Linked DNA regions of Homo sapiens. The protein of the gene in region 3 purifies or fractionates together with the protein of the main gene of each other region. This does not show direct contact. Each region holds a gene or a part of one and is shown on either strand. Other genes may lie near its edges. The genes, in order: DHRS2, MATN4 and GMEB1.

Region 1 (7,378 bases), on a different chromosome or scaffold from region 3:
AGAAAGGGGACAGCCAGACTTGCTGAGCTAGGAACACATCTCACAGGTGCTGTTACTCTAGCCTTCCAGCAGGGGGCGTCCTGTCCCGACAAAAGGCGAGTCCTCTTTTTCCTGCTGTCCTCCCAGCCAAGGAGACTGGATTCCTCTCAACCTCAAAAGGGGGTTAATCTGAGCTCGCAGCAGAAGGAGAGGAGTTCCCCAGGGGGGGCATAACAATGTTCAGAATCTGGTGTCCTGTTTAGAAAAGGTAGACCAATCAGGAGCTGAAACCCCTTGTCTCCACGTAATGCAAGGCTGTAAATATGACCTTGCAGGAAGGAGAGAGGCGTGAGAGAGTAAGCGAGAGCAACAGCAGGCAGAGTGGAAGCAGCTGGGAGGAAAGAGGGAGGAGGTCTAGGACCTACAAAGATTGTTTTTGGAAATACAATATCAGAAGAGATATAAATCGGAAATCAAGGCTTCCTTCCCAAAGCAAAGCATTTGGTCGCCTGCATTTTGACACTGAGTACAGACTGATATTTAATAGACAGTTTCTTCACAATTCCTGAGCAGCACCCATTCACTTATAATTTATAGATACAGACCCCTAACTCGAAGGAACTGAGTTATGCAAGAGTTGCTAAGGAACAAGGGGAGATGCAGTAGGTAAGGCAGGGGTTGCTTAGTAACCAGGAGTCCCTTGGTGATGGAGTGGCCAGAGCATGTCTGGAACTGATGAGGGTCTGTAGACAGAGTCATCCCAGGCCAGAGCCTCCTGCAAGTTCACATCTGTCGGCCCCTTGGCCCAGAGCTGCCAGAGCCTGCCTCTCTTCACCTTCCTGGCACTGTCCTGTCCCACATGAAAAGCACACTGCTAAGTCCCTGAGTGCCCTGCTAACTAACCCCTTGCTGGAACCACTCCTTCCCTCCCTCTCTCAACAGGAAGCTCATCAGATTCTTCCATTAGAGTAGGGAATGGCAGGCCAATGGGAATCCCACATAGGGGAAGGCAGGAGCCTCTGGGCTAACATGAATGTGGAGCTGGGAAATTAGGATTTGGGTGAAAGAGGGTCTCCTAGACAAGCATCCCTGGCATTTTCCAGTTCATGGTGATATATCTTCATACCTGAGTCTCCCATGCCAGATCCTCTCCCTGCCTTCACATCTGCGCATAGCTACAGAGGCACACCGTTCCCTTCTGAAGGGCCTCCTGAGGGCACAGGTCTCCACACAGCAGCCTGGATGTCTGTGGCTGGTTTAACTGGCTCAGCTCCACGGACATCCCTTCAGAGAGCTTCAATCAGCACCGGCCTGCTGGAGTCATTCAGAACTGCAGTCTGCTTTCTCAGGCATGAGCCCCCCATTCTCTGTATTCCAGGCACATAGGCATCCCTGCTCTCTCCCAAACACCCTGGACATCCACACCCTCCATTCTTCCTCTCAGCCTGTTCCCCTTGACAGGAGGATCTATCCTGTTGCTGCCCCTGTCAAAATCCTCCTCAGTCTTGCAGGTCCTATCTACCTGCAACTTTCCCAGCCTGATTAGCTCACCAGCCTTATTGAGCACTCCTGTGTTTCAAGCCCTGGGCCCCAAGAGGGAGGAGTGGAGCCTGTGTTCAAGGAACTCACATGACACTCATTACTGATCCTCTGCTTCCTGGCTAGGATACTCCATGAAAGCCCTCTGTGAACTGAATGTTTAAAATCAGAAAGTTTTGCTTATTTAAAGCAAAGCCCTTTGCATAGAACAACTTTGAGAAAGTATCTGAGATGCTGGCAAATTTTCTTCTGAGAAGGGAATTGGAGGATTTAATTTTTGAATTAAGTTTTAAGCTGCTTGAATTTTAAAATTTACCATGAGCAGGTAATCTTTACTTTTAAACTTTTAAATTGTGAATTATAACACATACGTAAAAAGTATACACATACATAGGTGATATAATATATCTTCATGGACATCATGTAGGCATCACTTGCTTATCAAATACAACATTGCCAGCACGCTAGAAGCTCTTTAGTTTGCCCCTTCTTTTTTTTTTTTTTTTTTTTTTTTTTGAGACGGAGTCTCCCTCTGTCACCCAGGATGGAGTGCAGTGGTGCAATCTTGGCTCACTGCAACCTCCAACTCCTGGGTTCAAGCGACTCTCCTGCCTCAGTCTCCCAAGTAGCTGGGACTATAGGCATGCGCCACCACACCTGGCTAATTTTTGTATTTTTAGTAGAGATGAGGTTTCACCATGTTGGCTAGGCTGGTCTCCATCTCCTGACCTCAAGTGATCCCCCTGCCTTGGCCTCCAAAGTGCTGGGATTACAGGCATGAGCCACCGTGCCTAGCCTGTTTGCACCTTCTTAATCATAACTGCCTCCCCACAGCTCTACTGCGGAAATACCCACTCTCCTCACTTTTGTGGTGATCACTGCCCTGCATTTCTCTGTATTTTTGTCACCTGTTTGCCTTCTTAAGCAATATAGAATTGTTTTACCTGTTGTTGAAACTTGTGGACTCAAATAATATGTATTCTTTTGTGTCTGACTTCTTTTACTCAACAGTATATTTTTTAAGATTCCTTTATGTTGTTCAGTGTGGCTTCAGCTCATTCATTTTCATTATTGTATAGTATTCCATTATAGAAATGCAACACAGTTTGTTTATCCATTCCACCGTTAATAGGCATATAGACTTTGATATGGTTTAGGTCTGTGTCCCTGCCCAAATCTCATGTCGAATTGTAATCCCCAATGTTGGAGGAGGGGGCCTAGTGGAAGGTGATTGGATCATGGGGGCAGATTTCCCCCTTGCTGCTCTTGTGATAGTGAGTGAGTTCTCATGAGATCTGGTTGTTTGGAAGTGTGTAGCACCTCCCCCTTTGCTCTCACTTCCTCCTGCTCCAGCTGTGTAAGTTCTGCCTGCTTCATTTCACCTTCTGCCTTAATTGTAAGTTTCCTGAGGCCTTCCCAGCCATGCTTCCTGTACAGCCTGTGGAATTGTGAGTCAATTAAACCTCTTTTCTTTATAAATTACCCAGTCTCAGGTAGTTCTTTTTTTTTTTGAGACAGGGTCTTGCTCTCTCTCCCAGGCTGGAGTACGGTGGTGCAATCTCAGCCTACCACAGCCTTGACCTCCTGGGCTCAAGCAATCGTCCCATCTTAGTCTCCCGAGTAGCTGTGACTACAGGCATGCACCACCACACCCAGCTAATTTTTATAGAGACATGGTTTCACCTTGTTGCCCAGGCTGGTCTCAAACTCCTGAGCTCAAGGGATCTGCCCACCTTGGCCTTCCAAAGTACTGGGATTACAGGTGTGAGCTACCGTGCCTGGCCTCAGTTAGTTCTTTATAGCAGTGTGAAAACAAACTAATACAGACTTGTTTCCAGTTTGGAACATTCTAAGCAGGCTTCTCTGAACCTGTGTGTACAGTCTCTTGGTGCACACATGACCTCCTGTCTGCAGGATGCAAGTTCCCTCTACAGAGTCAGAGATCTTTATTTTCAACTTCTCCGTATAATGCCAAATCATTTCCCAAAGTGATTGTACTTACCCTCTACCCAGCAGTGAATGAGAGTTTCTGTTGATTTTGCTTTTTCAACTAGAAGTGAGAGGTGACAATATGCTAGCAGCCCTTGCTCACTCTTGGTGCCTCCTCGTCCTCCACATCCACTCTGGCTGCACTTGAGGAGCCCTTCAGCCCACCACTGCACTGTGGGGGCCCCTCTCTGGGGCTGGCCAAGGCCGAAGCCAGCTCCCTCTGCTCGCCAGGAGGTGTGGAGGGAGAGGCGCCGGCAGGAGCCCACACTGTACAGGGCACTCACCGGCCAGCAGGGGCTCCGTGGGCCGGCCGGTGCCAGCTGGGCCTGACTGGGGGATGAGCTCCCTCTGGGCTGCTGGAGTGCCTGGGCTAGGTGCCGCAAAGTCCTGCAGTGTGTGCCATTGAGAGGTGAAGCCGGCTGGGCTTCTGGGTCCGGTGGGGACCTGGAGAACTTTTCTGTCTAGCTAAAGGTTTGTAAATGCACCCATCAGCACTCTGTGTCTAGCTAAAGGTTTGTAAATGCACCAATCAGCAATCTGTGTCTAGCCAATCTGGTGGGGACTTGGAGAACTTTTGTGTCTAGCTAAAGGATTGTAAATGCACCAATCAGCACTCTGTGTCTAGCTAAAGGTTTGTAAATGCACCAATCAGCACTCTGTCAAAACGGACCAATCAGCTCTCTGTAAAACAGACCAATCAGCTCTCTGTAAAATGGACCAATCAGCTCTCCATAAAATGGACCAATCAGCAGGATGTGGGTGTGGCCAGTTAAGGGAATAAAAGCAGGCTGCCTGAGCCGGCAGCAGCAACCTGCTCTGGTTCCCTTCCACGCTGTGGAAGCTTTGTTCTTTTGGTCTTCATGATAAATCTTGCTGCTGCTCACTCGTTGGGTCCGTGCCACCTTTAAGAGCTGTAACACTCACCGCGAAGGTCTGCAACTTCACTCCTGGGGCCAGCAAGACCACGAATGCACCGAGAGGAATGAACAACTCTGGACACACCATCTTTAAGAACCGTAATACTCACCGCAAGGGTCTGCAACTTCATTCTTGAAGTCAGTGAGGCCAAGAACCCATCAATTCCGTACACATTTTGGTGACTTTGAAGAGACTGTCACCTATCACCAAGTGGTGAGACTATTGCCAAGCAGTGAGACTATTGCCAAGTGGTGAGACCATCACCAAGCGGTGAGACTATCACCTATCGCCAAGTGGTGAGTACCATCAGATCCCTTTCATTTGCTATTCTGTCCTATTTTTCCTTAGAATTCGGTGGCTAAATTCTGGGCACCTGTCGGCCAGTTAAAAGTGACTAGCGCAGCCGCTGGACTAAAAACGTGGGTGTCAGGCTTTCTGGGAAAGGGATCTCTAACAACCCCTGGCTCTGTGGAGTTGGGAATGTTGTTTTGCCTGGAACCAGCTTCCGCTTTTCCTGTACTTCTGGGCTGAGCTGAGGGTCAACAGAGAGGAAAGCCATTCAGCTCCGGAGTCCCCACAACAAGTTGGTTGACCCTGCGGCCATGAGCGGAACTCTCAAAGGCATGTTGCCCAAGTGAGACTCACCTATCTATCCTATCTATCCTGACCCTTGCTCGCTGGGTCCTAATGCCTGCCAGACAAACTTTCTCTCTCCTCTCTTCTCCTAGGCTAGTCCCACTTCTAAAAAACCACTCCCTGTCTCTGGTGCTTTTCTAATTTCTCTTATAAGAATGATTTCTAGTAAAAATTTCAGGACTCTGTTACCTTCTTTAGGCACCTGGGCTCACCAATCAGAAAGACATAATTTTTGCCCAAAGCCCAGTTGTAGGGGGAACTATCTGGAATTTTAGAATCCCTCCTCAGATAAGCAGGTCTAACAAAAGCTATTCCTGAAGCTAGGATAGGGGGAGCCTCAGAAATTGTATCCTTCCTATTCATATAAGTGAGGACAAAAGGTGTCACTTTTCCAACCCTGGAGACCCCTTCCCTCCCTCAGGTTACTCTTCTTCATTTTTGGGGCATAACATCTTTATAGGACACGGGTAAGTTCCCAATACTAACAGGAGAATGCTTAGGACTCTAACAGGTTTTCGAGAATGCGTCGGTAAGGGCCACTAAATCCGATTTTTCTCGGTCCTCCTCATGGTCTAGGAGGACAAGCAAGGGTGCAGCACTCTATGTCTAGCTAATCAGGTGGGGACTTGGAGAACTTTTGTGTCTAGCGAAAGGATTGTAAATGCACCAATCAGCACTCTGTGTCTAGCTAAAGGTTTGTAAACACAGCAATCAGCACTCTGTCAAAATGGACCAATCAGCTCTCTATAAAACAGACCAATCAGCTCTCTGTAAAATGGACCAATCAGCAGGATGTGGACAGGGCCAGATAAGGGAATAAAAGCAGGCCACCCGAGCCAGCAGCAGCAACCTGCTTGAGTCCCCTTCCACACTGTGGAAGTTTTGTTCTTTCGCTCTTTGCAATAAATCTTGATTCACTGCTGCTCACTCTTTGGGTCCGCGCTGCCTTTAAGAGCTGTAACACTCACCACGAAGGTCTGCAACTTCACTCCTGAGGCCAGTGAGACCACAAACCCTCCAGAAGGAATGAACAACTCCAGACGCACTGCCTTTAAGAGCTGTAACACTCACTGCGAAGGTCTGCAGCTTCACTCCTGAAGCCAGCAAGACCACTAACCCACCAGGAGGAATGAACAACTCCGGACGGGAGGAATGAACAACTCCGGATGGGAGGAATGAACAACTCCGGACACACCATCTTTAAGAACTGTAACACTCATTGCGAGGGTCCGTGGCTTCATTCTTGAAGTCAGCGAGACCAAGAACCCACCAATTCCAGACACAGAAGCAGTTAATTAATAACTGGTATAATTATTTGTTGGTGCCTGGCATCTCATTTAACTGGGAAGCTGCATGGTTGGGGTCCAGGGCTGAGTCTGTCGTTTACTAAGGTGTCCCCGCCTCTACTGCCCAGTGCTTGACACATTGCCAGTGCTCAATGTTTGCTATGCAATGGATGGAAAAATCACCCTTGTCTAATGAATGTTGAGTCTCACATTTTAATTTGTGAATAATTTCCCCAGTTTTATAGCTTAGGAGTTTTCATGGATTGCTTTCCTGACCTGAGGTTCACATGTTTGAAATTTACCCTAACCAGCCTGACTCTCTGCCACTTTCTGTTGCTGGCCTTGTCTGTCTGGAGGAAGGAGGAGGGTAGATTACCTTCATGCTCACTGAGGCATCAGTGATAAGTGAAATTGATTCTTTCCCCCAGGCCTGATTCAGCAGGAAGCATCTCAGACACCAACCACTATGCTGTCAGCAGTTGCCCGGGGCTACCAGGGCTGGTTTCATCCCTGTGCTAGGCTTTCTGTGAGGATGAGCAGCACCGGGATAGACAGGAAGGGCGTCCTGGCTAACCGGGTAGCCGTGGTCACGGGGTCCACCAGTGGGTGAGTGCTGGATTGCCCATGGGTCCTGGCCCCTCACAGGGTCCTTGTGGCTTCCACAAGGACTCAGGGTTTTAAAGCAAGACCCAGCCTTATTTGCTGATTTCCAGAGCTGGGTAGAGGAAGGACAGTGGAGAGAGGCTGAGGCTGACTTTTGCCCTCCATCTCTGCATTCAGGATCGGCTTTGCCATCGCCCGACGTCTGGCCCGGGACGGGGCCCACGTGGTCATCAGCAGCCGGAAGCAGCAGAACGTGGACCGGGCCATGGCCAAGCTGCAGGGGGAGGGGCTGAGTGTGGCGGGCATTGTGTGCCACGTGGGGAAGGCTGAGGACCGGGAGCAGCTGGTGGCCAAGGTGAGGGGGCAGGCGGTGGAAGGACACAGAGAGGGGAACATGCAGAACCTTTCCTTCACTGCTTGGCCCTTGT
Region 2 (7,105 bases), on a different chromosome or scaffold from region 3:
GCACGGGGCCGTGCACCCTGCGCCTCGGAGAAGCTGTGCTCCACCATGTGCCGCAACGCCAGCCCTGTCATGGTGCCGCGTTCCATGTACTCCACGGCCAGGACCGCCTGCTTCACCTCGGCTGCGGTGCCGTAGCGACCCAGAGGGAACTCGGTGCGCACGCGGCTCGAGAACTGCACCAGCCCCACCCGCGTGCCCTCGGGGGACACATCTAGGAAGTCCACAATCTGGTTCACGAAGCGCTTCACTAGCTCGAAGTTTTGTGGACGCACGCTCTTGGAGCCATCAACCAGCAGAACAAGGTCCACGTGGCCTTCCCGGCACCCTGCACAGCCAGAAAAGCTTGAATTGAGGGACCAGATTCTGGACTGGCAGCAGCTGTCTATCCATCTAGTCGTTCATTCGCAAACATTTATTATATAACAGACAACATTTCCTGAGTCCTTCCTGTGCCAGGCAGTGTGCTAAGTAATAATAATTATCACCATCATCATCACCATCACCATCATCATCACCCTCATCATCGCCCTTGACATTTATTCAGTGCTTAGAACAAACCACTCTGCTAAAAGCATCTTTTTTTAACAACAATCATAGTAATGACCACAATAACTACCATTTATTGATCATCTACTATGTATCAGGCACACTTCTAAGCACTCTACCAGTATTAACAATAATAATAACAAAAACATTATTTACCGACAGCTTACCATGTGGTAGGTACTGGGTGAAGTGCTTATATATATTCTCAATCCTCCCAATAAGCTTGAATATTGTCCCCATTTTCTATGACCTGAGGTTCTGATGGATAAAGTGATTGCCCCAGATTTCATAGCTAGTACTGACTGAGCCAAGACATGAAGCCAGGTCCATCTGACTCCAAAACCCATGCTCCTGAATGACTCTACAATGTCACCTCCCCTATTCTGAGCCAGGAAAGTTGCTAGGCCCAAAATGTGGTGTGTGTTGGCGTGGGGAGGTTTTCAAAGGTTTTGAAATAATTAAAACATAATCCTGTTCCATGAGGACAGAGCAGAGCAAGTCAGACATGCTATGTGCTCTGGTCAAGGAAAGTGCTAGAAGAGAAGATCATGCAGGGATCCCAAGGTAGGAATAGTGTATTCTTCCTGGAGTTGTTAAGGAAGGCTGCATGGAGATGATGGCCTTCTATCTGATCTTTGTTATGAACTGAATGAGTGTGTTTCCCAAAATTCATTTATTGAAACCCTACGCCTTTATGTGATAGTCTCCGGAGGTGAGATCTTTGGAGGTTAATTAGGATTAGATGAGGACATGAGGGTACAGCGCTTATGAGTAAAATTACTGTCCTTGTAAGAGTCTGAAGAGGTCAGGCATGGTGGCTCCCAGCACTTTGGGAGGCTGAGGCGGGCAGATCACTTGAGGTTAGGAGTTCGAGACCAGCCTGGCTGAGATGGCAAAACCCCATCTCCACTAAAAATACAAAAATTAGCCAAGCATGGTGGGGCACACCTGTAGTCTCAGCTACTCCAGAGGCTGTAACAGGAGAATCAGTTGAGCCCCAGAGGCAGAGGTTGCAGTGAGCCGACATCGCGCCACTGCACTCCAGCCCGAGAAACAGAGGGAGACTTAGTCTCAAAAAAAAAAAAAAAAAAAAAAGTCGAAGAGGGCTTGCTTCCTGTCTTCACCATGTGAGGACACAGCAAGAAAATTGGTGTGTGTGGGTGTGTGTGTGTAGGGGTGTGTGTGTGTGTGTGTGTGTTGGCGTGGGGAGGCTTTGAAAGGTGTGCCATCTAAGAATCAGAAAACAGGCCTTCTTTAGACACCATATCTGCTGGCACCTTGGTCTTGGACTCCTCAGCCTCCAGAATTGTGAAAACTAAATGTCTAGTCTACAGTACTTTGATATAGCAGCCTGAATGATCTAAGACAGTCTTGAAAGATCAGTAGGAGTTTGCCAAGGCAGTAAGGGACAGTCTAGAAGGTGAGATGCAGCACGTGCAGAGGCTTGGGATCTGGGGAGATCCTGACACATCCGGGGAGGGGCAGGCCAGTAAGACTGAAATGTTCAAGTGTGGCAGGAGATGGGCAGATGGAGTTGGCTGAAGCTAGATCGTGATGACCTAAGGCAGTGGTTTCAAAATTTTTATCACAGCCCACAGTAAAAATAATAATAATGACAATACATCATGAGACATTTCACACAGAACTAAAATTTCAGAAATAATATAACTCTTTCTACAGGCAGTAAACTCTATATTGTCTTCCACTCTTTTTTTTTTAATGTTGGTTGTAACCCAGTAATTTGATTTCATTATTCATTAATGTGGTTCTGCTCACCATTTGAAATACTTAGGGGTAAGTCATTTGATCTTTCTCCTGTAGTCATTGGTGAGCCACAGAAGGCTTGTGCACAAAGGAGGAATGTGATCAAATATGTATTTTTAAATTAACATTGACAGCAGAGTAGAGGATTGTAGGAAAGAGATGGAAGGAGGGAATGGCACACCCTCCAATGTCACCCCCACAACACACACAGACATTCACACCACAGCCTAGGGGCCACAGCAATGGCAAAGTCAAGGACACTCCAAATGTGGGCAATGGGGCAGAAGCCAACAGAACACCCTCCCGCCCATCACTCACGGTTGCAGCTCTTGCCATCTGCCTGAAGTTGCCGCCCCTCGGGGCACAGGCAGCGGTAGGAGAGGCCCTCGCTCACACACTGGAACTCACAGCCATGGTCCACGCCATTGCAAAGGTCCCGGACTGAAAGGAGAGACAGGTCAGGATGAGTCAGGATGGACCCCACCAGCTAAGATCTCTTACCCCTCCCACAAATGTAGGAGAGCCCTCCTCACCCTGACAGCTCCTCCCATCAGGCTGCAAGTCATGGCCCTCTCTGCAGTGGCACCGTGGCCCACCAGGGGTGCTAACACACTCATGCTGACAGCTATGGTTCCCAAAGCTGCAGTAGTCAATGGCTGGCAGGAGGGAAGAAACAGCAAGATGTTGCCTCTGATTGGAGCCCTCGGAGGCCACAGTCCAGGGTGTGGTGGGAGGGTGGGGGTGTTGCTCACCCCTGCAGCTCCTCTGGTCCTGCTGGAGTACAAAGCCAACTTGGCAGTGACAGAAATAGGAGCCTGGGGAATTGACGCAGTGGTGCTCACATCCATGGGTCCCTTCAGCACACAGATCAATGGCTGAGGAAGAAATGGGGTCAGTCTATGCCCAGGACTGCCCTTCTCAGCTCTGGTAGCACAACCACCTAAGGAAATTTTAAAGAATACCTACGCCTGGGCCCCAACCCCAAAAATCCTGACCTAATTAGTCAGGGCCCCTGTCCTCAAGATGCTCTCTGACTTACAGAGGACAGGTTTGGCCACTTTACCTATTTGAGCCTCCATTTTTCTATTTGCAAAATGGGAATATAATGGAAGACAGTGATTGCTATTCACAGCTTCCTTCCATGGAAGATGGGGAACTATTGCCCTGTTGAGCATCTTGATGATCTGGATAGGCAAAGATGGCCGAGAGCTGGACTGGAGAGAAGATAATTACCCTGTATAAAAAAGTGAGTATTTGGGGTTCCTGGAAAGGAGATGAGAGTGGAGAGAGGAAAGAAAAAAAAAAAAAAGAACAAGAGAGCCAGTATGAAGATGAGTAACTCTGTGGGTTGAGGCTGCCTGTGAAAAATCCCTTGTACTAGGCTGACTGAGGACTTTCAGAAACAAAGCTGTCTAATATTCAATTATAATGAGTTTTTCGTGTGTGTGTGCACGCGCTATGAGTTACTTAGCACATACACGCTTGTGTATGCCCCTGCATACACAAGTGTGTAAACCAACGAAGAGGTTGATTAACATGCATGGAACAAGAACAGCATGTGCAGGGTTGAGAAATGAGAGAGGATCCATAAATCAAATGAATTTAGCAGAGGCTCACAGCAAGAGGTGACAACCAGAAGATAAGCACTTGGGGGATTTCCAGAGGTCTTGGAGAGAGATTTGAATGTTAAACAGTCATCAAATCAGAGTTCAAGCCAACTTTTAGTTTCTAGAAACAAGAAGACCCCAGCTGACATCTGGGTTATTGGGATTACATGATTTCTTTTTCCAGGTTGTTGTGAGGCTGAGAGATAATAACATGTGTAATGCTCCTAGCACAATGTCTAATACTAACTTGGTACTCAGTAAAAAACTGAATTGAATAAGCGAGGTATTCTATGCCATAGCTTTTCAGAAGACAAAAATGAAGAAGCAGCTCACACCTGTAATCCCAGCACTTTGAGAGGCCAAGGCGGGAGGATCTCTTGAGCCCAGGAGTGTGAGACCAGCCTGGGCAACATAGCAAGGCCCTATCTCTTAAAAAGAGAGAGTCTTGAAAGATTTGCAAAGGCAGAGGGGAGTGGCAAGGGCAGCTCAGGTGAGCAGCACACAAAGAGCTGAGGTGCAGAGTCAAGAATGGGTGGCATGAGGGGGGACACCCACCTAATTGAAGACCCCCCAACAGTATCTAAGAAGAGAAACTGTAAGGATGTGCCTGTAAGAAGACAGAAATGGCCGGGCGCAGTGGCTCACGCCTGTAATCCCAGCGCTTTGGGAGGCCAAGGCGGGCAGATCACTTGAGGTCAGGAGTTCGAGACCAGCCTAGCCAACATGGTGAAACCCCATCTCCACTAAAAATACAAAAAATAGCTGGGTGTGGTGGCCAGCACCTGTAATCCCAGCTACTTGGGAGGCTGACACACAAGAATCACTTGAACCCGGGAGGCGGAGGTTGCAGTGAGCTAAGATCGCACCATTGCACTCCAGCTTGGGCAATAGAGCCAGACTCTGTCTCAAAAAAAAAAAAAAAAAAAAAAGAGAGAGAGAAAAGAAAAGAAGAAAACAGAAACAAGTTTGGGAGGTTGATTAGAGACTGGCCTGAAAACAGGGAGAAAGAGGGCAGAAAGCACACTGAACTGTGGGCTCCCACCAGGGACTTATGTGACCCCAGGCAATACCTTTCTTTCTTAGGCCTGTAAAGTGATGGAGGTGTGCTTTTACTGCCAAAGGCCCTTCCAGACTCATTGGTCTGATGTTGGGGCAATGGAGAGCCAAAGAAGGTTCAGGAGCAGTGAGATTGCAGGACAGGGATAGCTGTCATCCAAACAGCTCTTGTTATCTGCTGCTAGCTTGTAGCCTGGGTTGCAGGTGCAGTGGAACATGGCCCAGGCATTGACACATTGGTGCTGGCAACCATGTCCCCCCTCAGCACACTGGTCCTTCCCTGAGGACACACAGGACTAGAATCAGTAGGGAACAGATGGGCAGAAGCCTCCAACAAGAGAGAGCTGGATGGGGATGGGGTCAGAGGCAGGCATCACCCTCAAATGGCTTTCAGAAGGAAATGACTAATTTGAGAAGGGCCGTACCAAGTGAGAGGGCTTAGGGAAAGAATAAGGCTTAAGGAGCCCCTGTGAGTAGGCTCAGAAGAGGAGACACTCAATTAGACACGTCAGTGGGCTGGGACAGGACTACACAGGGGCAGGAGTGGGTAGGAAGGTGGAGAGGTGCTAAGTCGAGGTGGGCGGAATAAACTCAAAACAGATCAGAACAGATCTTGCAGCATTTGTGGGAGGAGCTAAGATGATAATGGGAGAAGTCATCCCCATGTGGGAGGGCCACGACTCTTTGGAGCAGCCGATCCCTCTTAGCTTTGAGAATCACTGGTTCCGTGTGTGCAGGGGGTTGGTGCTGGAATTTGACATTAAGCCTGTGGTAAGCTGTGGCGGGTAGGGCAAGAAATTATAGGTTGCTCCTTGTTGATGGAGGCTGAGCAGAAGTGGTCAGAGCTGAAATCTGACACAGCCTGCGGTAGGTCAGGGCAACTCTACCTGGAAATCGCGGGGCCACCCCCACGGGATGGGATTTACTGTGGTGGGAAAGGAATCCAAGCATTTGGATTGAGAGTTCGAGCTTCACTCCAGCGCCCTCCTAACTCACCACACAGCCGGCTCTGGAACTGCAGGCCGAACTCCTGGATGAGGTCGAAGGACTCTACGAGGAAGACGTGCTCGTCTAGCGGGGGCGATGCCATGGCGCGCAGGGAGCCCACGTCCGCGCGCTGCACCCCCACCGCGTAAATTTCAATGCCGCGGGCGCGCGCCTGTGCCGCCACCTCGGCCACGCGGTCCTGGGGCCGCCCGTCTGTCACGATGACAGCGACACGCGGCACGCGCTCCTCTGGCGGTCGCGCGCCCTCGGCCACACTGAAGGCCACGTTCATGGCGTACTGGATTGCCAGTCCCGTCATGGTGCCTTGCGCCAGAGGCACCAGGTCGCGGATGGCGCGCTCCATGTCCTCGCGGCGAGAGAACGCGCGGAGAGGGAAGACGCTCTGCACTTGACTCGAATACTGGATCACGCCAACGCGCGTGGCGTTGGGACCCACGTTCAGGCCTCGGAGGAGGCCCATGAGGAACTGCCGCATGGTCTCGAACTCGAAAGGGCGCACGCTGCGGGAGCTGTCAATCACGAACACCAGATCCAGGGGCCCAGTGTGACACCTGGGACCTGCGGGGAGATCAGGGAGGACTCTCCTAGGTCAGCAAAGCCTCACCTCCGAGGAGACCCCCTAGGAAACCCAGGGGAAATGCCGCTATGCCGACATAACAGCGCCCAGCACAGCAAACGCAGATTAGACAGATGCACTCGCCCGGCATGTGCCTAGCACCTGGGCTAGGAGATTTCACAAATTCCCTCATCTTACAGATCTGAGGGCTATTCTGAGGCGGTATTACCCATTGACGAGGGGGCAAGGAAGCGTCGCAAACTCAAAGCCTGCAGGGACCAGGCAGGGAACATGGATGAACTGGTTGGGTTAGGACGCTGGAGACCCAAAGAGCCCCTATCACTCCTAAATTGGGCAGGTAGCTGCATCCAAATGAGGCCATGCCCCTGCGAATTGGATGTCAGCAGATCCCTGGTTTTTCAAGAGAAATACTAAACAGGGATTTTTATGTAAAATTTCCTGGTTTTTTTCCATGTTTTCAAATAATTTTTCCAAATTAAACACCCCATGGGCAGTTCTGCATGCGCCCAAAACTAAGCCACATCCTACAGATGAAGAAACTGAGGCC
Region 3 (7,037 bases):
GCGCCCAGCCCAAAATATTTATTTATTCCACACTCTATTATAACTTTTGAAGACTGTGTAGTCGTTTTATTTTTTATATATTTATTTATTTATTTTTTAGTGAGACATAGTCTCACTCTGTCACCCAGGCCGGAGAGCAGTGGTGCGCTCTCGGCTCACTGCAACCTCGACTTCCGGAGCTCAAGCGATCCTCCCACTTAAGCCTCCAGAGTAGCTGGGACCACAGGCAACTAGCTCCACCACGCCCATCTAATTTTTGTCATTTTTTGTAGAGACGGGGTTTCACCATGTTGCCCAAGCTGGTCTGGAACTCGAGCTAAAGAGAGGCCGAGGAGGCCGCTCACTTTGGGAGGCCGCCTGTCTCGGCCTCCCACAGTGCTGGCATTACAGGCATAAATCACAGCGCCCGCCAGAAAACTAACAAAATTAGGCGGGCGCAGTGCCACGCACCTGTAGTCCCAGCTACTCAGGAGGCTGAGCTGAGAGGATCGAGTTTGCAGTGAGCTGAGATCCCGCAATGCACTCTCACCTGGGCAACAGAGGGAAACTCTGTTCCCCCAAAAAAATAAAATAAAAAAGAAATTTCCACTCTAAACTACAGTTTTGTTTAAAACGGGGGGAAAAATCCAAGTTAAAACTTTATTATTACTTGAGGCCAAAACTCCTTGATATCCCCTTTATTTCTTCTCATGCATTCAGTGGGTGATCCATAGTGCTACAAGATGTAATGAGGTCAACAAGTAAATTATGCAGAAACACTGAGGGAAGTATCCAGAGGAGGTGAAATTCTAAGTCACAGACTGGAGACTATTATGTAGATGTTTGAGGGAGCGATGGGATAAGAGTTATTTGGAGTCATCCCGCTACAGTCCGGTGGACTTTGGCTTAGGGCAAGACCAAAATACTGCCCCCACAATAAACCCAATGAAGCTGAGTAGAAGCTACCTATACAATGTATTTGCTGAAGTAAATAGGAACCCAAAAAAAATCATTTAAGTAAGATATTAAATATACATCCTTGATATAAGGCTCTCAAATTAGGAGACGGTGCAACCATTGAATAAGTTTCCCCCGCCGGGCGCAGTGGCTCACGCCTGTAATACCAGCACTTTAGGAGGCCAACGCGGGCGAATCACAAGGTCAGGAGATCGAAACCATCCTGGCTAACATGGTGAAACCCCGTCTCTACTAAAAACACAAAAAAATTAGCCTGGTTGGGCCAGGCGCAGTGATTCACGCCTGTAATCCCAGTACTCTGGGAGGCTGAGGATGTGGGATCACCTGAGGTTGGGAGTTCGAGACCAGCCTGGCCAACATGGTGAAACCCCGTCTCTATTAAAAATACAAAAATTAGCTGGGTGTGGTGGCGGGCGCCTGTAGCCCCAGCTACTCGGGAGGGTGAGGCAGGAGAATCGCTTGAACCCAAGAGGCGGAGGTTGCAGTGAGCTGAGATCGCGCCATTGCACTCCAGTCTGGGCAACAGGAGTGAAACTCCGTCTCAAACAACAACAACAACAACAACAAAATTGGCTGGTGTGGTGGCACGCGCCTGTAGTCCCAGCTACTCGGGAGGCTGAGGCAGGAGAATCGTTTGAACCCAGGAGGCGGAAGTTGCAGTGAGCCACCACTCCAGCCTGGGCGATAGAGTGAGACTCCGTCTCAAAAAACAAATAAATAAATAAATAAATAAAAAGGGTCCCCAAATGCACTTTGGTAACTATTAGAAGAGGCAAGGAGGAAGAAGATAATCCCTCAAGACTAGAATTATGTCTGACAGTCTCTTTTCCTAAAACCCGTCTTGATTGGCCTAAACAGACACCAATCAAGGCCCCATCTGTGTCTACTAGGAAGTGGTTTTGAGATTTCTCTCATCTTGAGAGAATCCAGGGCTGCGCCTGCTCTGCTGTCTAGGTCAAGACTTCACCCTCTTGTCTTGTGGATCATCCTCCAAAGACCCTCGGGTTGAGATTTTGCCTTCATCTCTCCTGCCCCTCAATTAGATAACACCTGGCCAATTCCTGTCATTTCAGAAAGCGGGAACACCTTAAGCATCTTTCCTCAACGATCTCTGCTTCTCTCAAAAAGATAGGTTTCTCCATCCCCTGACCGAGCGGGTTACTTTGTTCTCCACCTAGACATCAAGAGGCACCTAGACACCTTCCATCCCCTCAGGTTTGGACGCTGCTCTTTCGTACTTCAGGAGGCTCTAGGAGTCTTCCTACCACGCGCTCATCTGTGGGGAGACCTGGGCCTGCTCACTTCCCCTTAGAGCTCCTCTTCCTTCCCTGCCTTTGGAAAAAACCTGCCCTTTTTTCCCTTGTTCTGAGTGGCCGAGGCCTCTACCGCGCCCCTCGGGATAAGCTGGACTCTGCTCTCCTCAGAAGAACCCACTCTGTACTCTTGCTCTCCCGCCAAGGCTCCGAGAGGGTCTCCTCCCAGGCGGGCATCCGGGCTTCCAGCACCTATCGTCCCCCTCCCACTGGGCAGGACCCAGGCCTCCAACCAGCTCCTCATCCAAGGGCCCGGTGCTCCCCGGACCCCGCCTTTGGGGATACCCCAGGCTCCCCGGACCCCTCGATGGGGTCCTGGGCGCCTGGCCCTCTCAGTCCGGAGTCACTCCGGCCCCTCCTGGCCCCTGAGCCGAGTACTTCCGGGCCCCTCGGTCCGGGGGCGCCGGGGCCCCCCCAGTGGTGGACTCGCCGGTTCCCGCCGCCCTGGTCTGGGGCCCGAGCCCCGGCGGCGCGGCCGGCTGCGCTGGGGGCGGCCCGGCGGCTCGGGCGGACCCAGCGGCAGCGTCCCCCCACCCCCCCGCGGCGCCGCGACGTCCGCTCGCTCCCCGGCGGCGGCGGCGGCACGCACAGGGCGTGGGGAGGCGCCCGCGGAGGCAGCAGCCCCCCGCCCCCTGCGCGCCCGCCCGCCCTCGCCGGCCGCCGCGCGGCCCCCGCGCCCGCCCCCCCGCCCCCACCCCACCCCGCGCCCGCGCGCCCACCCCTCCCCCTCCTCACCGTCTCCGTCGGGCGGGCGGGCGGCGAGCGGCCAGGGCGGGCAGGCGACGGAGCATGCGCAGAGGCCGCCACGGCAGCTACCGCCACCGCCGCCGCCAGGCCGGGCTTCAACACTTCCGGCCGCCGCCGCCGGAGAGCTGGCGCCTTAAAGGGGACGCGTCCCTATTGCCGGTCCCACCGAGGATTAACCTTAGCCAAGGGATTTGGGCCTTACCTAAGCAGAATTCTTTCGCCCTTGAAAATCAGTGTTGGAAAGGTCGCTAGAGACCCCAGTAACTCTCCTTCCCGCACTCATAGATGAGGAAAATAGGCCCTAAATGAAAGAATCACCTCAACCACAATTGAGGGCCAAGCTAGCTTTCTCGACTCCTCTGGAGGACTCTACTCCATTTACCTCCCCAAATCCTGTTTTATGAAGTTTACATCTTATCGGACCCTTCAAGTTACAATCCAGCTATCAGTTTGCAATCAGAAGATCTGCATAGATCAGTAACTGGTCACGAGTCCTTGAGCAAGCCCTAAGCATTGTCTGACCCGTGCCTGTTTGCCAAGTTTTTCCTGCTTGTGAGTTTCTGGGTTGAAGTCTTGACTCCCCTGCTGGAAGTGTAAACGACTCTGGAGGAATTTCTTGACAGCTCTAAACCTGTTTCCGATAAGACATAATGTGAGTGCTAAAGAAGGTGATACCTGCATGAAAAGTGCTTCAGAGAGTTCCTGGGGTCAGTAATAGTAATTAACAAGTATTAAGACCTTTATTTTTTATTTATTTATTTATTTTTTTAGACAGAGTCTTGCTCTTTGGCCAGGCTGGAGTGCAGTGGCGCGATCTCGGCTCACTGCAGCTTCAGCCTCCTGGGTTCAAGTGATTCTCCGGCCTCAGCCTCCCGAAGAGCTGGCACTAGAGGCGCGCGACACCACGCCCGGCAATTTTTTTTTTTTTTTGTATTTTAGTAAAGACAGGATTTCACCATGTTGGCCAGGATGGTCTCAATATCTGACCTCATGATCCACCCGCCTGGGCCTCCCAAAGAGCTGGGATTACAGGCGTGAGCCACCGCGCCCGGCCGTATTAAGACCTTTCTATGGCCAGGTGTGGTGGCTTACGCCTGTAATCCCACACTTTGGGAAGCCGAGGCGGACAGATCACTTGAGACCAGGAGTTCGAGACCAGCCTGGGCAACATGGTGAAACCCCGTCTCTACTAAAAATACAGAAATTAGCCGGGCGTCGTGGCACGCGCCTCTAGTCCCAGCTACTCAGAAGGCTGAGCCAGGAGAATCACTTGAACCCGGGAGGCGGAGGTTGCAGTGAGCCGAGATCAGGCCATTGCACTCCAGCCTGGGCAACAGAGTGAGACTCTATCTCAAAAAACAAACAAACAAAAAGACCTTTCTATGGCCTATGGCTTGGTGAAGATGCTTCTGTCTTGTATAATCCTCACAGCAACCCTACTAAGTAAGTTTCTCTTTTTTTTTTTTTTTGAGACGGAGTCTTGCTCTGTCGCCCAGGCCGGAGTGCAGTGGCGCAATCTCGGCTCACTGCAAGCTCCGCCTCCTGGGTTCACACCATTCTCCTGCCTCAGTCTCCTCAGTAGCTAGGACTACAGGCGTCCGCCACTACGCCTGGCTAATTTTTTTGTATTTTTTAGTAGAGACAGGGTTTCACCGTCTTAGCTAGGATGGTCTCGATCTCCTGACCTTGTGATCCGTCCGCCTCAGCCTCCCAAAGTGTTGAATTACAGGCGTGAGCCACCGCGCCCGGCCCTTCTTTTCTTTTCTTTCTTTTTTTCTTTTTTTTGGTGGGGGGGACCGGTCTGGGTTGATCTCCCAGGCTGAGTGCAGTGGCGGGATCTCGGCTCACTGCAGCCCCAGCCTCCAGTGCTCAAGCAGTCCTCCTGCCTCAGCCCCCGGAGTAGCTGGGACCACAAGCAGGAACCACCATGCCTGGCTAATTTTTACATTTTTAGTAGAAATGGGGTTTTACCATGTTGCCCACTCTGGTCTCTAACTCCTGGGCTCAAGCAATCCTCCTGCCTTGGCCTCCCAAAGTGCTGGGATTACAGGTGTGAGCCACCATAATTGTTTGTTTATTGATTGATTGATTTGGAGACGGAGTCTCGGTCTGTGCAGTGGTGCGATCTTGGCTGCCTCCCAGGTTAAAGCGATTCTCCTGCCTCAGCCTCCCGAGTAGCTGGGACTACAAGCACGAGCCACCACGCCTGGTTAATTTTTTGTATTTTTAGTAGAGACGGGGTTTCACCGTGTTGGCCAGGATGATCTCGATCTCTTGACCTCATGATCTGCTGCCTTGGCCTCCCAAAGTGCTGGGATTACAGGCATGAGCCATCGCGCCCAGCCAATTTTTGTATTTCTGGTAGAGACAGGGTTTCACCATGTTGGCCAGGATGGTCTCAATCTCTTGACCTCGTGATCCTCCTGCCTCAGTCTCCCAAAGTGCTGGCATTACAGGCGTGAGCCACCGTGCCTGGCCATTTATTTTTATTTAGTTATTTTGGAGGATAGAGTCTCCTCCTGGGCACAAGTGATCCTCCAATCTTGACTTCCCGAGTAGCTGAGACTATAGGCTTGCACAACCACGCCCAGCTCCTTTTTGTATTTTTCATAGAGCTGGGGTTTCACCATGTTACCAAGGCTGGTCTCAAATTCCTGAGCTCAAGTGATCCACCCACCTCGGCCTCCCAAAGTGCTGGAATTATAGTCGTGGGCCACCGTGCCTGGATGATAACTGATTTTTTTTTTTTTTTTTTTGAGATGGGGTCTCGCTCTGTCGCCAGGCTGGAGTGCAGTGGCCCTACAATCTCAGCTCACTGCAGCCTCTACCTTCTGAGTTCAAGGGATTCTCCTGCCTCAGCCTCCTGAGTAGCAGGGATTACAGGCATGTGCTGCCACACCTGACTAATTTTTGTATTTTTGGTAGAGACGGGGTTTCACTATGTTGGCCAGGCTGGCCCCAAACTCATGACCTTAGGTGACCCACCCGCCTCGGTCTCCCAAAGTGCTGGGATTACAGGCCACTGTTCCTGGCCTATAACTGATATTTTTTTTTTTTTGAGACAGAGTCTCACTCTTGTCACTCAGGCTCGAGTGCAGTGGTGCCATCTCGGCTCACTGCAACCTCTGACTCCTGAGTTCAAGTGATTCTCCTGCCTCAGCCCCGGAAGTAGCTGGGATTACAGGTCCCCACCACCACACCTGGCTAATTTTTGTATTTTTAGCAGAGACGTCGTTTCACCGTGTTGGGCAGGTTGGTCTCAAACTCCTAACCTCCGGTGATCTGCCTGGAGCCACCACTTCTGGCAACTGATTTTTTAAAAGACAAAAACTTCAAGCATCATCTGGTCTCTCCTCCAGCCTGGAACAGTGTCTCTGGCTGTCCACCGACTCTCCATACTCCACATGCCCACAACTGAATTTGTTTCTTTCCCCACCCACCTTAGATGTCTTCAACAAACCTGCTTCTGTCCTAGTGTCCCCCACCTCAGGGAATGTTGCCCTCATCTCTCAGTCACCTCCCAAAGACCCCTAGAATATCATCTCTTCTCTAACCCCCACTGGTCCAGATCATCATCATCTGCCTCTGTCACAGCCAGTGCCTCCTAATTGGTCTCCCTACTTCCTGTCTTGCTGCCTTTGAGTCTTCATTCTTAATTCTTTTAGTGGCCTCCTATCCCCTTTAAAAAAAATTGCTTGTGAACTCCCCATCATGGTCTATAGGACCTGGCACTGGGATCCTTTCTTTACTTTCTTTCTTTCTTTTTTTTTTTTCGAGACGGAGCCTTACTCTGTCACCCAGGCTGGAGTGCAGTGGCGCAATCTCGGCTCACTGCAACTTCTGCCTCCCAAGTTCAAGTGATTCTCCCACCTCATTCTCCCAAGTAGCTGGGACTACAGGCACATGCCACCACACCTGGCTAATTTTTATATTTTTAGTAGAGATGGGGTTTCACCACGTTGGCCAGGCTGGTCTCGAACTCCACCTCAGCTTCCCAAAGTGCTGGGATTACGGATGTGA

Evidence for each region.
Region 1: the proteins of GMEB1 (region 3) and DHRS2 purify together in Homo sapiens (affinity purification with mass spectrometry; 2 studies listed by BioGRID and IntAct, with this or other methods). This does not show direct contact.
Region 2: the proteins of GMEB1 (region 3) and MATN4 purify together in Homo sapiens (affinity purification with mass spectrometry; 2 studies listed by BioGRID and IntAct, with this or other methods). This does not show direct contact.

What each region holds. Positions count from the first base shown.
Region 1 is NC_000014.9:23,632,052-23,639,429, forward strand, and holds the start of DHRS2 (dehydrogenase/reductase SDR family member 2, mitochondrial), read left to right. Parts: upstream 1-4,312; 5' UTR 4,313-4,721; intron 4,722-6,342; exon of another isoform or gene 6,343-6,366; intron 6,367-6,775; 5' UTR 6,776-6,813; coding exon 6,814-6,953; intron 6,954-7,127; coding exon 7,128-7,305; intron 7,306-7,378. UniProt on the Homo sapiens protein: NADPH-dependent oxidoreductase which catalyzes the reduction of dicarbonyl compounds. Displays reductase activity in vitro with 3,4-hexanedione, 2,3-heptanedione and 1-phenyl-1,2-propanedione as substrates.
Region 2 is NC_000020.11:45,298,259-45,305,363, forward strand, and holds part of MATN4 (matrilin-4 isoform 1 precursor), read right to left. Parts: intron 6,540-7,105; coding exon 5,970-6,539; intron 3,186-5,969; coding exon 3,063-3,185; intron 2,967-3,062; coding exon 2,844-2,966; intron 2,752-2,843; coding exon 2,629-2,751; intron 326-2,628; coding exon 1-325. UniProt on the Homo sapiens protein: Major component of the extracellular matrix of cartilage.
Region 3 is NC_000001.11:28,664,808-28,671,844, reverse strand, and holds the start of GMEB1 (glucocorticoid modulatory element-binding protein 1), read right to left. Parts: upstream 3,062-7,037; 5' UTR 3,006-3,061; intron 2,628-3,005; exon of another isoform or gene 650-2,627; intron 1-649. UniProt on the Homo sapiens protein: Trans-acting factor that binds to glucocorticoid modulatory elements (GME) present in the TAT (tyrosine aminotransferase) promoter and increases sensitivity to low concentrations of glucocorticoids. Also binds to the transferrin receptor promoter.